Homo sapiens: one gene and its partner. The protein of the gene in region 2 purifies or fractionates together with the protein of the main gene of each other region. This does not show direct contact. Each region holds a gene or a part of one and is shown on either strand. Other genes may lie near its edges.

Region 1 (3,500 bases), on a different chromosome or scaffold from region 2:
TGAAGTGGGAGGATCACTTGAGCCCAGGAAGTTGGGGAAGCTGAGGTGGGAGGATCACTTGAGCCCAGGAGTTGAGGCTGGGATCACACCACTAGGCAGCTATTTCAGCCTGGGTGACAGAGTGAGTGTGTCAGCCTGAGCAACAGAGTGAGACCCTGTCTCAAGAAAAAAAAAAAAGGAAAGAAAAGAAATGCAGTGGTGGAGCCCAGGTATTGATATTTTAAAAAGTGTCAGGCTGGGCACGGTGGCTCATGCCTGTAATCCCAGCACTTTGGGAGGCCGAGGCGGGCGGATCACAAGGTCAGGAGATCAAGACCATCCTGGCTAATGGGGGAACTTCGTCTCTACTAAAACTACAAAAAATTAGCCAGGTGTGGTGGCAGGTGCCTGTAGTCCCAGCTACTCGGGAGGCTGAGGCAGGAGAATGGCATGAACCTGGGAGGCGGAGCTTGCAGTGAACCTAGATCACGCCACTGCACTCCAGCCTGGGCAACAGAGAGAGACTCCATCTCAAAAAAAAAAAAAAAAAAAAAGTGTCCCAGGTGATGCTGATGCCCCTTGAGTGTTGAGGACCACTGGAACAGAAGGACCCAGATGTTAGAAAATGTTATCCCTTTCCTTTGGAGTAGGATGAGGGGGATGTAATTTATCCTTTTTTCTTTTTTTTTTTTAATCAGAGTCTCGCTCTGTCGCCCAGGCTGGAGTGCAGTGGTGTCATCTTGGCTCACTGCAAGCTCCGCCTCATGGGTTCAAGCTTTTCTCCTGTCTCAGCCTCTTGAGTAGCTGGGACTACAGGCATGTGCCACCATGCCTGGCTGCTTTTGTATTTTTAGTAGAGATGGAGTTTCACCACGTTGGCCAGGCTGGTCTCAAATTCCTGACTTCAGGCCATCTACCTGCCTTGGCCTCCCAAAGTGCTGGGATTACAGGCATGAGCCACTGCACCCGACCAATTTATACTCTACTGTGTGTAGTTTCCTATTTTTTCCTTAGCAAAAGCCATTTGGAAAAGTCCCTGCCACCCCCTCTTGTATTTGTACTTTTATATTTTAAAAACAAGGTTAGCTGGGCACGGTGGCTCATGCCTATATTCCCAGCACTTTGGGAGAACGAGGCAGACGGATCACCTGAGGTTGGGAGTTCCAGACCAGCCTGACCAACATGGAGAAACCCCGTCTCTACTAAAAATACAAAATTAGCTGGCCGTGGTGGTGCATGCCTGTAATCCCAGCTACTCGGGAAGCTGAGGCAGGAGAATCGCTTTAACCCGGGAGGCAGAGGTTGTAGTGAGCTGAGATCACACCATTGCACTCCAGCCTGGAAAACAAGAGCGAAACTCCGTCTCAAAAAAAAAAAAAAAAAAATCATTGAGGCTGGGTGCACTGGCTCATACCTGTAATCCCAGTACTTTGAGGGGCCCAGATGGGAGGATCACTTGAGGTCAGGAATTTGAGGCCAACCTAGGCAATAGTGAGACCCTGTCTGTACAAAAATTGTTTTAAAAAATTAGCTGGGCATGGTGGCCCATGTCTGTAGTCCCAGCTACTTGAGAGGTTGAGGGCAGGAGGATTATTTGAGCCCAAGAGTTTGAGGCTTCAGTGAGCCACAATTGCGTGACTGACTCCACCCTGGGCGACAGAGACCCTGTCTCTAAAATAAATAAACAAAAATTTTAAAAAGTTTAAGAGTCAAAAAAGAGACTCTTGTGATCAAGAGTCTCTTGAGTATATTCAGTGCTTGCTGATATCAGCTGATAATTGAAAGAAAAACGTGGTTTCCCCTTTCATCCTGAGAGGCCAGAAGCTGGTAAGACATGAGCACAGGTCAGAATTTCCACCCGTGGGAATTCTGGGGGTGCTTTATTTTAGATGATTCGGCTAGATTGCTTCTTTATCCCCTGGCAGGCCCCCATACTAGTAGCTAGCTGTTAAGAAAAAAGAAGCCTTTTGGTGACCCACCTGAAAAGACCATAGGGTGAGGATCAGTTCTCCCATGTTCTCACTGGTGAGAATTGGGTTTTGCAGGTGAATCCTTGGTGGTATCCTCTTCCTTACCCGTCCCTTGTCTTTTTTGCCCACCATCCCCTTTCCTCCTCTGTTGCTAGACACCCCTGGTGTAAAAGGCTCTCTGTGCTCAAAGGCTGTTTGTTGCAGTGCAGCCACGCTCACTCTGATAAGGTTCTGTTTTATCTGGCTTGGGAAAAGCCATTTGGAAAAGTCTACTTTCCTTGTTCCTAGAGACCAGTGCTTGCATCCAGGCAGACCTGGCTTTGAATTGAAGCCCATTAACAAAATTTATGGCATCTTTCTTCTAAGCTGTATTTTTGTGCACTCTGTAGCTCTCACACAGAGGCACTGTTTTTCCTAACATGAGGTGTACAATGCAGCAGTTGCACAGATACGGTCCCTAAAGTGAGAAATGAATGTTCGAAAGAAGGTGCTCTCGTTTGGCATGGAGTGAATGCCTTGTTTCCACCTCAAATCCTAAGATGGAACACATTTTTCCTGGTGACTTCAGGCAGATGGCACACCTCCCACTTCCGTTGTGTGTCATGAAGGAGGAGACACTTCTATAGCCAGGGCTGTGCCTGAATAATGATGTACATGGGGGGGAGTTCACATTCACCTCCAGAATGGGTTTCCTGCTTTGCTTGAGAAATGCTTTAATTGGGTGTCATTAGTAATCCTGTCAAGGGTAAAAAAAACCTCCCTTGTTAGGAATCAAAGCAAAAAGCTCTCTCTGAGGAGTAATGAGGAATATACTCTTTCTAATATGATGCGGAAGCACTTAATATTTGTTATTGGTGTTTACAGAAATGATTACTTCTCAAACATTGCTGCTTACAGAAATGATTAATTCTCAAACTATGCCGGGAAGGTGAGTATGGTAATGATTTTACAAGGGAGGAATCTGAAGTGTAAGAGGAATCATGTCTTGCCCCAGGTCTCGAGCTAATCTGTGGCAGGTTTCGGGGCGGTGCCTGCTCCTCCGAGCCTGTCCTGGGAACTGGCCACACTGCCCTGGGTTCACAGCACCATGGGCTCTGTGCGTGCCGTTCACATACTCTTCTCCCTTGACAGCTTTGCACGTCAAGGAGAAGCTACCAGCCCACGCTTCTTGGCAAGACTCCTTTCCTCTTGGTTGTAAGGATGATACGGTCTGCTTCGGAGATGATAAAACTAGTATTGATGTTTATTTATTTGCTTTTACTTGGCAGATTCTCAGCGCTGATTTTGAGATGATGGGCTTGGGAAACGGGCGTCGCAGCATGAAGTCGCCGCCCCTCGTGCTGGCCGCCCTGGTGGCCTGCATCATCGTCTTGGGCTTCAACTACTGGATTGCGAGCTCCCGGAGCGTGGACCTCCAGGTGTTTTGTTTTCTTTATTGTTATGTTTATTTTATGTTTATGTTTTGTTTATTTTGTTATGATGGGGTCCCAGGGGTTTGTTGTTTATTGCCAGCCAGGGCGTTTTGTGCAGGGCACACGCTTGTAAGGTGAG
Region 2 (3,500 bases):
ACGCCCCAGCTCCCCCCAGGGCTGAGTCCGTCCCTGGGTGCCTGGCCCTGATTCTAGCAATACCACCCCCACCAGGCCTCACCAATCACACAGAACGGTTTCCGGGCAAACTTGAGCCGCCCCCTCCAGCCACGGTACCGGCAGCAGCAGCCTGCGGCCCAGATCCGCACGAAGTACTCCACGCCAAACACCACGATAGTCACGATTTCCTGCAGGGGAGGAAAGCTGAGGCCACCTTGAGGCCTGGGGGAGGGCCTGGGGGCCCAGCCTGGACACCCACAGGAGCAGTTCTGGCCCAGGGACCAAGCCACAGGGCAGGAGGCCCCCAAAGGAAACTGCAAGCTGACCCCCCCACCCCTCTCCAGCCTCTGGGCAGGAAGGGTTGGGCCCTCTGGAGACCCTGCATCCGGGAACACAGCTGAGCATGAACACCATGGGGCCACCCTCCCCACCTCCCTGTCTGAGCTGGGGACTCTATCTGGGCTAGGGGACCATGTCTGAGCTGGCAGGGCTGCCCTGTCTGAGCTAGGGGGTTCTATCTGGGCTAGGGAACCCTGTCTGAGCTGGGAGGCCCTGTCTGAGCTGGGAGGCCCTGTCTGAGCTGGGGGACCCTGTCTGAGCTGGGGGACCCTGTCTGAGCTGGGAGGCCCTGTCTGAGCTGGGGGACCCTGTCTGAGCTGGGAGGCCCTGTCTGAGCTGGGGGACCCTGTCTGAGCTGGGGGACCCTGTCTGAGCTGGGAGGCCCTGTCTGAGCTGGGGGACCCTGTCTGAGCTGGGGGACCCTGTCTGAGCTGGGAGGCCCTGTCTGAGCTGGGGGACCCTGTCTGAGCTGGGGGACCCTGTCTGAGCTGGGGGACCCTGTCTGAGCTGGTTGGGGAGCTGCCCTGTCCAAGCTGGGGGACTCTATCTGAGTTGGGGGCCCCTGTCTGAGCTGGGGGACCCTGTCTGAGCCAGTGGGGGACCTGCCTTGAGTTGGGGGGTGCACAGCAGGGCTGAGCTGAGGGAAGGCCCCAGGTAACTGCAAAGGGGGCCACAGTCTCCACCCAGACCTTGGGAAGCCCCAGAACAGAGGAGCAGGGCGGGCAGTAGAGGGAGGTGCATTTGGATGGGGACCAGTCTCCTTGAGGGCCCCCCACCCCGTTACCAACAGCAACACAGGAACTGCACTCCCGTTGCCATGGCGCCCACCCTGCCCTGGCACAGGGTTGCTGCAAGCGTCACAGCCCCCACCCCGACGCCCACGTCTGCCGTCTGCTGGGGACGCCCCACATCTCCGGCTCCAGAGATAAAGTGGGGATGGGAAAGGGAGGGTGGCCCACCCAGGGTGGGGGCGATGGAGGCGGGGCTGTCAGCCACTGTGAGGTCACCAGGAGGGGTGAGGTGAGGGCTGAGTTACAGCCAGGGTGGGGCTGGGGCATAGCCCGGGCTGTGGGGCTGGGGGCAGATGGGAACTGACAGGGCACAAAGACATGGCCAGAGCTGGGGCTGGGGGCGTCAGAGGCCCTGTAGTAACAGGAACGGAAGACAGACGCCCAGGCAGCTCCAGCTCCTTCCTGGGCACTTCCAGCCCCCGCCCTCCCTCGGGGCTCACCAGGATGTAGAGGGCCCCCTCCGAGCTCTTCTCATACTCCTTGATGGTGGAAAACACAGACAGCACGAGGCAGGAGAAAACCAGGAGGAACCTGGGGGCAGGGAACGCGCGCTCTCAGACAGGCCGCAGCAGGGCAGCAGCATGGCTGTGTCTCCAGAACTCAGGACCCCACTCCCCACCAGGCCGCAGCAGGGCACCAGCATGGCCGCGTCTCCAGAACGCAGGACCCCACTCCCCACCCACCCCACCAGAGCTCGCTCGGGCCAGAGGGCACCCCCATAGCCACCTCCCGGGACCCTGAACTCCACAGTGGCAGCTGCCCCCTCTATGCGCAGCTGCCCCCTCCAGGACGCACCCCCCTCTCCACTCTGGCCCCTGCCCCTTCTGTCTGGTTTCAGCCTGGCAGCCTCATCCTTTGGCAACGTCTCCAAAACTCTCAGTCAAATGGGAACAGCAAGGCCTGCCCATCAACTGCTACAAACACAGGAACAAGCAAAACCCCTGGGGCAGAAGGCACCGATCAGCCTTCCCCTCTCCTCACTCTCGGCCACCTCCTCCAGACCCCAACGCAGAGGGCTTCTCTCTGCCAGTTAAACCCGGAGCCAAGCAACAGGAGCTCCTCGGATCACCTTCTTTCCAGCCTCGTCCTGGCTGCCAGGAGGCTCCGTTTCTCCTTCCTCCCGGGTTGCAGGCACCTCCTCCCGCCAGTGACTTCCACCATGATTGCTCTTCCCATTCACGTCCCACGCGATTACCTCACTCACTGATCCTTCTTCAATTTCCCCTCAGATGCTCAAGTTCACACCCCACCAAAATTCCCCCAAATGCATGTGGGTATTTTTGTTTTTGTTTGTTTTGTTTTGTTTTGAGATACAGTTTCACTTGTCGCGCAGGCTGGAGTGCAATGGCGTGATCTTGGCTCGCTGCAACCTCCGCCTCCCGGGTTCAAGCAATTCTCCCGCCTCAGCCTCCAGAGTTGCTGGGATTACAGGCATGTGCCACCACACCAGGCTAATTTTTGTATTTTTTTAGTGGAGATGGGGTTTCATCACATTGGCCAGGCTAGTCTCGAACACCTGGGCTCAAGTGATGCTCCCGCCTCGGCCCCCCAAAGGGCTGGGATTACAGTCATGAGCTACCATGCTCGGCCCAAATGCGTGACTTTTTCTCAGCCCTGCATTCTCCTCTGATACAAGCGACTCTGCTACACTTGCTCCCTTGCCCACCCCAGGAAGCTGCAGACAGGAGGAGCCCGCTAGCCCCCGAAGACCCTGCCGCGGGAACCCGGCTTGTGGCTGCAACAAGGCCACCCACATAGAAGAGACATAGAAGATCTCCCAGCTCTTCCTGGGAGCAAAGCTGTGCAACCCAGAGCCTCAAGCTGCCGCTTTGGCAGGAAAGCCAACTCCCGCGTGCTGAAGTCACTGAATGCACACCAGAGAGAAACCCACTTCGCAGGAAGCAAATGCTTTGTCTCATTTACATTTTTCGCAGGTGTTCTGGGATGTGAAGGGGACGTGTCCAACGTCCAGGTCCTTCGTCACAGCCATAAAGGAGGCCATGCGTGGGACACGCCCTCATTCCAGGCAATGTGAGAGACGCCTTCACCTTGACCGTGTTGCTGCCTCTCGTTCCAACCGTGCTCAGAACCAGGAGCCGGCGGGGACGGAGCCACAGAGCAGCCGCTTCCCCGTGTCCGCGCCCCTGTACTGTCTTCACACTCGCCATCACCTTGCACACCCTGCGGCACCACACGACCGCCACGGAGCCTGTGGGGCCCTCCTGTGTCTCAAACCCGAGCCCTTCCCCGGCGCCCACATCCAGGTGGGTGTCAAGGGAGGGAGATTCCCCACACTCAGGATCTCCTTCCCTCTGTCCCCAAAGCAGTGCTGCAGTCCAGCCTGGGTTC

The links. Proteins that work in one complex are often made in the same cells at the same time.
Region 1: the proteins of KCNQ2 (region 2) and GOLM1 purify together in Homo sapiens (affinity purification with mass spectrometry; 3 studies listed by BioGRID and IntAct, with this or other methods). This does not show direct contact.

What each region holds. Positions count from the first base shown.
Region 1 is NC_000009.12:86,079,059-86,082,558, reverse strand, and holds part of GOLM1 (Golgi membrane protein 1), read left to right. Parts: intron 1-3,217; 5' UTR 3,218-3,238; coding exon 3,239-3,367; intron 3,368-3,500.
Region 2 is NC_000020.11:63,445,156-63,448,655, forward strand, and holds part of KCNQ2 (potassium voltage-gated channel subfamily KQT member 2), read right to left. Parts: intron 3,416-3,500; exon of another isoform or gene 3,286-3,415; intron 1,683-3,285; coding exon 1,592-1,682; intron 210-1,591; coding exon 83-209; intron 1-82.